Linked DNA regions of Homo sapiens: region 2 is linked to region 1. Evidence: fine-mapped expression QTL. A gene starts in region 1. The other region holds a variant in brackets. All regions are shown on one strand. Distances are from middle to middle.

The links. PIP is the estimated chance that this variant, and not a neighbour inherited with it, causes the effect. A credible set is the group of variants that fine-mapping cannot tell apart.
Region 2: its variant is the best candidate, but not a certain one, in a credible set for the expression of ZNF366 in monocytes (Quach 2016, PIP 0.53).

What each region holds. Positions count from the first base shown.
Region 1 is chr5:72,505,470-72,509,866 of GRCh38, forward strand. ZNF366 (zinc finger protein 366) reads right to left here and starts at 1,941. Exons shown (of 5, transcript NM_152625.3): 1 at 1,782-1,941.
Region 2 is chr5:72,470,471-72,474,867 of GRCh38, forward strand. All of the region lies in intron 1 of ZNF366 (zinc finger protein 366), which reads right to left. Among named protein-coding and RNA genes, the nearest start is that of ZNF366, 35 kb to the right of the region's middle. The variant C/G (reference allele first, on the strand shown) is at 2,609.

The DNA of each region.
Region 1 (4,397 bases):
GGGCTGTTTTCTGAGCCACTGGCCTACCCACCTTGTGCTTTCCTTGTCTTTAATTTAATTGCCTTCCTTGTCTTTAACAAATGACTCTGCTGTCATTTGTTTCCTATTGTGTTGCATCTGATGCTTTTACTCAGTAAACAAAACTAGAATGTGTTCTGTGATGTTGTTTTAGTTGAGCACAAAATTCAATACATTATCAAGAGAAATGAAACTGAAAGGAGCAAGTCAAGATCGCAGACCTGCGTTTTCTTCTGGGGCCACAGTTGCTGATAAATGATGCAATAATGCCCTCGACAATCTATTCCAGCTACCTCTTGATCTGAAGATCTATGGAAATGGAGTAGTTAGGGGAGGTGGTAGGGTAGCAGTAAAACACTTTCAATTGTTATTAGAATAATTTTGCATCCGCAAGCTGGCAAACGCTATTCACGTCTCTTTACATTGCTCGTTTTATGATGCTCCTAAAGAAAATCCTTGAAAAAAGGAGAAGAAAAAAGAGGTCTGACTAATGGAACAAAAGCTACATCACAGTCTAGTTCTGTCATGTTTTCTCATCCTTAGTAAGATGATGGTTCAATTTTGAATAAAGATTAATTACTTGAATGTGGTTAAAGCATAGTCTAGCCAAATTAATTTTTAAAATGAGAGTCCAGCTATTTTTATCTTATTCTTCACATCCCAGGTGATTTCAATCAGTAAATTTCATAGCAGTGAATATTTTTAAAAAGTATGCTTGGCCATTGGCTTTTACCCATTCGGCATCTCTCTGAATTAAAGTATTAATATTGGGAAACATAACGAGTCTCTCGGAGTGACCTTGCTGACCTATTTTTGACAACATGATTTCGGCTCCCTCATGGCTTGCGATGATAGGTGCTGGTAACATTATCCTTTATGACTAATCTAATTGAAGCAAGTTAGACTTTTAAAAACTAGTTGTGTATGTTAGCTTGACTAGCTTGCTACGCCCTATTTGGTGCTTGGAAAACCAGGCACTGGGTGAATGCTTTTCAATTGCGTCTGTAACTTAGTTTTTCCCTCCTACTGACATAAATGATCCATCTTAATCCTCCCATTCTAGCTGCATATTGTTTTCCAAAACTAAAGCTATATGCCCCAAAACCTTTGCCTTCTATCATGTGGCAGATGACATCTTCCACTGACAGTGAATAATAAATTTACACTCAACCCGCATGGGGAACCTGAACACATAAGCTCCCCACATGCAGAACTATTTCCAAGTGACATTCCCTTCTCTCTTTCCCTTCTACTTCAGTGATGCAGAATAACCATCATATAACAATTAACAATCCTCCTTTAGGGGGATGCTGAATGGAAAGAAAAGAACAGGAGAAGGGCACCTCAATCCAGGTAACGTATTAACAAAAACCCCAGAGCAAACCACAGTCCTTAACAGACACCCTGATAAGGCTCCCAGGACACAGTACTGAGGAAGAGCAAATTCTCCAGTGGGACACATCTCACACGCCAGTGGCTCCTGGTTCTCCCAGCCACATGATCTGTGCCAAAATTCAGATTTAACGCAGTGTCCTCTTTAGTCCCAATGTAATTCTATTTCTAGTTTTGCCAGCCTTAGTTCTGCAAAGCATCAGTATTCTCTTACCAAAAAAAAGTATTAGCTGAAATTCTGGGCCATCTATCACTTATACCCTTTGGTTAAGGACTACTCCCAGTAAGGTATTTTCTGTTGAAGATGCCCACAGCAGTATCCACCCAGGAACCTTGAAAAGGAAGCAGAAATGATTGCATGGGTAACTTACCAGCTCCTGAGGTCTGAATGGCTGCAGCAGCCCCACTCCTTTACCTGATCCCTGCTCTCTCTGTCTCTCTCCCTCTCTCTCTCCCTCTTTCTCTTGTGTACAGATTGCAGGGAACTTAAAGAACTCGCAGGGACAGTGTTTCGAATGACTTAAGAAAGAGAACAGGAACAATACTTCGTTCTCTTTTTCTCAGATGAGTACCTTCGGGAAGAAGGAAGGAAGGGAGGGGAGAGGGAGGAAGTCAACAACCCTTTGCTTTCCTGAAAAAAAATAAGGAAACAGAAGATAGACATCTCATTTTCTCTTAAACAAAATGTTGGAAGGGGCAAAAAAAAAAAATCTTTGAAAAAAGGAATTCCTCAAATATGTTCTCTGCCCTGGGAGCTTTAAAGAGATGAAACGCCTTAGTGGCCTGTCCTGTCCAAACAAACGGTGTTCCAGACAGGCAGGCTCTCCTGAGCCTGCAGCCTCTGGTATCTGGTTTGCAGAACTGACACAGCCGAAAGGGAACAAATCATGTCATGTCGACTTAGAGCAAGGGAGAGCTTGGCCTGTTGTGCTAACCAAGGTAAACCTGCAGCCTGTAAGACAGTGTCGGGGCTGGGCAGCCAGGACTCCTGGCTTTTCTTAGGCCCTTTGAAACACCAGCATTGCTGCAATTCCTCGCTGACTCTAGATCCTTAGAGTTTTTCCAGGATCAAATAGCAGATTTATGCCCACCGAACTTTATACAGTGGACCCAATCCAGCTTCCATCACTGATGGATGAAAAAGGAAAAGAAGCAACTAACCACAACTGCTGCCGGCCATGGTTATCTCAGATCTGTTGTTTATATTATTCTATCCTCTACATTCCTAAGGCGTCTTGGATTTAATCACCTCTGGAAAACTGGAAGGAGATTTCTAATTTGTTTTCAAAATACTGTGAAGCAGCATAGGGTTTAGATAAATCAGCCATGGTGTTCGAAAAAAGATAGGGGAGGCAGGAGCAGTTAAAATGGAGGGAGTAACCTTTATCAAGGTAGAAGACTTGGGGCTTCAGCAGGCAGGCATGAGCTTGCTTAGGCTAGTTGCACTTAGGAATAAGCTTGGTTTTAACTTCTCTGATTTGTGTTATGTCTCTTGTGTCCCTTATTCATCTGGTTAGGACCATTTTCACTGTGAACAGGAACCAGCAGTTATGTAGACCTTTGTGGCAGCAAAAGAAAAACCAGCCTTACACTACTTCCTCATTTCACCCAACTGTGAAAAAAATGGGGTGGACAGATACACCTGATTGCAAAGAGTCATGAAAGTGAGTTCAGGGGAAGAATGATTCTGATTCAGTGACCCTGTAAGATTTTGATTGAGTCCTTATTGGCCTATAGGATTATGTTTTTATTCTGACAGATATTTTTCTATCATCTATCTGTCTATCTATCATCTATCTATCTATCTATCTATCTATCATCTATCTATCTAATCTATCCATATATCTATCTATCTCCCTGTCTATCTAGTTATCTGAATATGTGTGCATGTATCAGAGAGAGACATGAAGATTTTGTTACTCGGTAGGTGTGCACAAGCCAGAGCAGAGTCCCATTCCTTGCATCCGCCACAGCACCAACACTGGCACAACCCATGGCACTGAGTTCTGGCCTGGGTGACCCAGCCTCACCAACAGTGGGGAACACGGATGACCAGAGACAGTCTCTTTGGTTCGCTTAGAGCCACACGCCAACACGTTCCTGTCTCCTGATCCCGGCTCTCGGGCTCTTTGCCCTCTGCTGGCCTTCCTCTACATCCTGCCTTTGTAGAAATGGGAAGGGAAATGAAAATGAAAATCTGAGAAAGCCAGGGAAGGGCATGAGGGAATGGAGCAGGAAGGCCTAGGAATGGAGTCTTTTAAAGGGGGAGAAACACTGGGGCAAACCTTTGAGTAACCGGAGGTGAAACAAGCAGGCAGCTGAAATTCACAATAAAAAAGCAGACGTCCTTGGGAGTGAGGTGGGGTGAGGAGAAGCAATAGGGAGGGGGCAAGGTGTGCGGGGCATCAGCAGCAGAGGAAAGGAGGGACCCAAGGAACAAGACGCTCATGGTACCAACTCCTCACAGGCAGGAAACCGCCTCTGATCACTTGAAGAATCCATTGCAGCTGCACACAGGCCTTCCCATATTTTTACTCCTCTTTGCACCCTCAAGGCAAGGCCAGGGCTGAGCCCCAGGAGTCCAGGCAGAATCCAAAGGATTTCCCTTTTAAGTCTGCAGAATGTGGGGACTGTCACGTTGAGGCTGTGTTGTTGTCTCCAGGCCAGCTGACCCGCCCAGACAGCCTGGATGGGGACATGTGCCATTTCAGGCTGCACGGCTTTGACTGAATGGGGCAGCATCCAGTCGGGATCTGACATCATCCCCGCAGCCAGCCAGGGGACTCTCAAGGCTGCCTTGTGCCAAGCTGCTCCATGCTCACACCGCGTTGCAACCCTGCCTGTGAAATTCACAGAAAAGGCTTTTCCCTCTTTCCTTGTGCTGCCAGTCACCTGAACAGTCACCCTCTAAAACTTGTGAAACCACCCACTGGGTGTCAGGAGCAGAAATTCCTAACCCTCCCATTAGGTTTGGCAGGACAGATTTC
Region 2 (4,397 bases), 35 kb before region 1:
CTTCTCTGAAGCCTATCACAATTGTTGGATGTTCCACTCATTGGCAGGGTCCTGTGCTGCCAGTCACCTTTCTGTGTGGGTGGATGTCCTATATTTCTAACATAGTTTGGTTAGAAAGTCAGAAACTTGCCTGGTGCCTCATACATGGTTCAAATCCAATCATTACTTGGAAATTTACTTGACAAATAACCGTGTCCTAGGTTTCTCTTGCTCCCTGATCCCAAGCAAAATTTTTCCATTTCCGGAAGACAGGACTAACTGGTTGACTTGTCCTGTCCCAGTTTATCCCAAGCCAACCTCGCGTAAATTAACTGCCAAGAACATCTCCCATGAGGAAGGTGCTTTAGCCATGGCATAGCAGGGACTGGGGTAGTGCTCCTCAGAATGGATGGCCCCTGCTTCATCCTGGCTCAGGCTCCTTGGCCAATGAGTGGCATGTTCCTTTGATATGAAAGATAGAATGTCCTGTTTCACTGAAATAACATAAAGGAATGTGGGAAGGTTCTGAAAATGCCCAAGGTGACAGTGGGCAAATGCCAATGAGTCTCTCAGTGAGTATGCAACCACAGAGTAAAACACACCCACATTCCTGCAAATACAGTGTGTCCTGGGGGAGCAGGCCACCATGATTTCCCTCACTGACTCAATAGCTGCAGATTCCCCGTGACTCTCCATGCAAATGCTCATTCGCTTTGTGGAAAAGCCCATCCTCATGGGCAGATGGGTCTGTGACCCCACTGTTCACTGTTTCTTTTTATTTTATGTAGTAGACTTCTTGCTATATTTCTGCCTTCTGATGAATGATCACTCTGCATCTGGATACCTTTTCTCCCCACTTTACATTTTTATTGTTCCAAGTCTTCTCATTCGTCTGCTTCATATTGATTTTTTTCTATTGATTCTGCTCACTAAAATCATTCTTATAAAATATACATACTGATAAAATACATGCACTTATCTCCTTGTGTACATGTACAGATAGCCTAGCTCTAGAAGGAAATAGAAGAATCTGGTATTATCTGCTGTCTCTGGGGAAAAGGACTGTATGGCTGGAGGAGGAAGGTTTGGGAGTGAAGCAGCTGAGTTACCAATTTATGGAGGGGCCGTTCCCATCATAGTCTATGGGTGGGTGCCTCTGCAGCTGTTCAGTGCCTGGGTGGAAAGGAAACTTTTAATGGTATACTTTTGCAACTTATACTTCTATACACTGTAGATGACTTAGCTATTCAAACACTTGCATTAAAAATGTAAAAATTCATATTGGCTTTCAAACAGCAAACACTCAGACAAAATTAGACTTGGGATTCCCTTCCTTTTGAGCTCTGAAAAATTCTCTTGAGGCATTTTAATAGACTCCTTGATTTTTCTGCCCAAGGTCTTAAAAAAAATTTTTTTTTAAGAGACGGGGTCTCACTTTGTTGCCCAGGCTGGTCTTGAACTCCTGGCCTCAAGTGATCCTCCAGTCTTAGCCTCTGCCTAAGGTCTTTGGATGCTCCTGTCAGACTTCACCCAGGCTTTTTCTTTGGGCATACAGTTTTATGACCTAGGCTTGTATCATCAGGAAAATAAATACAAGCCACAGTAAAAACTCAGACTGTGAGGAACTGCCCTGCAGGTATTCACTCAGCAAACTGCTTCAAGTGTCTCTTCTGTGTCTGCACTATGCTGGGTGCCAGGAGGACAATGTCTTATAAACCAAAAACTAGGTTCAAGGAACTCACCATCTAGTGAAAGAAACTGACAACCAGATGTCGTGCAAAACATTTTAGGAGCTACTAGAGGAATATTGAACTGGTTGGTTGATTTACTGAACATGAGAGAACAAAAAGCAGAACTACATTTCCTTGACTAACATCAGAAACTATTTTCTTTCAAAATGTTCTTTTTTTGTGTGTTTTTATTTAATCATTAAAATGTCAGTTAAAACAACATGAAAAGGATGAAGGACTATCTTTGGATGTGAAGGATGAGAGAAAAAGTTTCCCCTTTCCCAACCAGTGCCACAGCCTTCCCTACCAGTGGGTTCTGTAGAACAGAGGAAGAATTTGGGGACTTGCAAAATTAGGCTGACCTTCAATTAACTGCATTAAGAAAGCCAGTAAGTATAAGTCCAAAAATGAACTGCAGTTAACCTTGAAATAAAGAAGAATCGGTTAGAAAGATTCATAGTAATTACAGAATTACACACTGCAAATATGATTAATCCAGTTTCTCCATTCCAGCCCTCCGAGTTTCTCCCTGGCTTCTTCCCCAGTGCTGAGAGGGCACTCTGGCGTGTCAAGGGTGAGCCCTGTAGATTTTGGCAATGTAAAGTCCTTCCCCGGGGCCCTAATGTAGTTGAGTTGCTTAAAAGCTGCTTTCAGGGTAAATGAAAAGTCCAGTCCTATTTGTACCACTGTAGAACCACACAATATCAAAGTGCAAATCATGCCCCAGCCCTCAGACAGAATCAGTCCCCCTTCCTCTCAACTCCCACAGACTATGCCCACACCCTCGAGGGAGCTTCCTCATGGGGTATTGCATAATCTAACCTCCCACAACACTGGGATCTCCTTGAAGCCAGGGACCATTTCCTAAACCTTTCTGCGTTGTCACTATCTTATACAAT[C/G]ACCAGTACTTAACATTTGTAAGTGATGGATTTTCAAATTGCTATAATTTGCTAGTCTTAAGAGAATTTTGTTCTGTTCTTTTACAATAAATAGTAGATAAAACTGCCTGGAATGTGGATATGAGGCTGGAGGAGGAGCAGCCATATTGGAACAATGAGGCAACAATGCTTCCTACCATGTATGGTCAAGAGGTAGAGGGAGATTGTCAGTGTGGAGCTCCTGTACCCACTTGGTGCTGGTCTTCTTGTTATTTGAGAAAATGAATCCTTTACTTGGTTAAGAAAATGTATTCAGAGTTCTGTGGCTTGCAGCGAAACACAATCCTTATCTGATATATAGAGCAAATCAAATGTCAATTCCTCTACCTGACTGTCAAAGTTCTCCATAATCAAGTCCAACTCTGTTCCCCTTCTCTCTAAAATCCTGTCAACTGCAGTCAGATCAGACTTTCACAATTAGCTACAAGAGGCATAATAATTCCTTCCTCGTTGCCTTTGTTTAGACTGATTGGCCATCCAGAAATGTTCTTTTCATTGACCCATTCCATTCTTCCCGGCTGAACTTAAGTTCAGCTTCTTCCCGGAAACCTTTGCTCCCTACTCAGTTATCTGTCTCTTGTTTCAAATCCTATGACATTAAACCCACTGATCCCCGGGTTAAATGTATGTTTTCCCCCTATATTGCACTCTGATTATTTTGTGTTTAGGTTTAGTGCTTAACCAGTGCTTAAGCTCCCTGCAGCCTAGGATTCATACTCTCTTCTGTCATTGCACCTTGCACTGTACTGGTCACCATGAAGATACTCAGTAGATATCCCTTGCTTGGTTGTGATCCTCTTACTATGCATTGCTATATCTGCCTTTGAAAAGAGGTTTGTCTGTGGCTTGAAGAGCACATGTGAATTTAGGTTGTATCTCCATCTGGCAAATTAATGTTGCCATTGGTTGCCAGTTCAGAATCAGAATGAATTAATTTGCCATGTGGAGAAATTTGCAGCAGCAAACATTATCATTATGGCTTATTTATTGCTGTGAGCACTATGTTGAATTTGCACATTGTTTAAAGAGCATTTGTTGGTACTGGAGATGAACCTTTAACCTCTTAAATCTATGTCTTTGGCCTCAAGAAGATGAGATCAGGAGTTTCTGACACTGTCTCAGAAGCACCACAAAGGCCAATTAAAAGGCTCAGAACTCTCAGGCTCCTGCACGGAGCTGGGGCAGCTAAGCCATCCTGAAAGTCTCCTTGGAGGGCTGTGGTTCTCCACTGCACACAAAGGAGAAAGGACAGGGGAGGGGGGAAAATGCCACTGTTGATTAAATCTGTGAGGGTTTAAGTATTCTTCCACTACATTGAAATAATCACAGGACTTATATCTTGGACAGGTTTGTATCTCTCTTTTGGGACTTAAACTGTGAAAATAAAAAAGGACATCAGAGTAAGGGAGGGAAAGTCCAAATTCAGAAAGGAAGGTTACTGTAATTTTTCAGTTTTCTATGTTAATTTTTTTAATAAGATTTCATCACATTCATAACCTTGCTTTCTTTTTCTTTGTCTCAAATGTACACCCATGCACACACACACACACACACACACAGACACACACACAAGCCATGTAAAGTAATCCAAGTTGCTTATTCTTTGTGTGTGCATTACATTAACAAAATAGGGGGTTCCCTTCAAAGATATAGTTCCCTTAGCAACCTTACTGGAATTTCCTTCTCTGTATGGAATCCTCCACATCTTTAACCACAGAATCCACTTACTATTTGGAATTCTAAGTCTGCC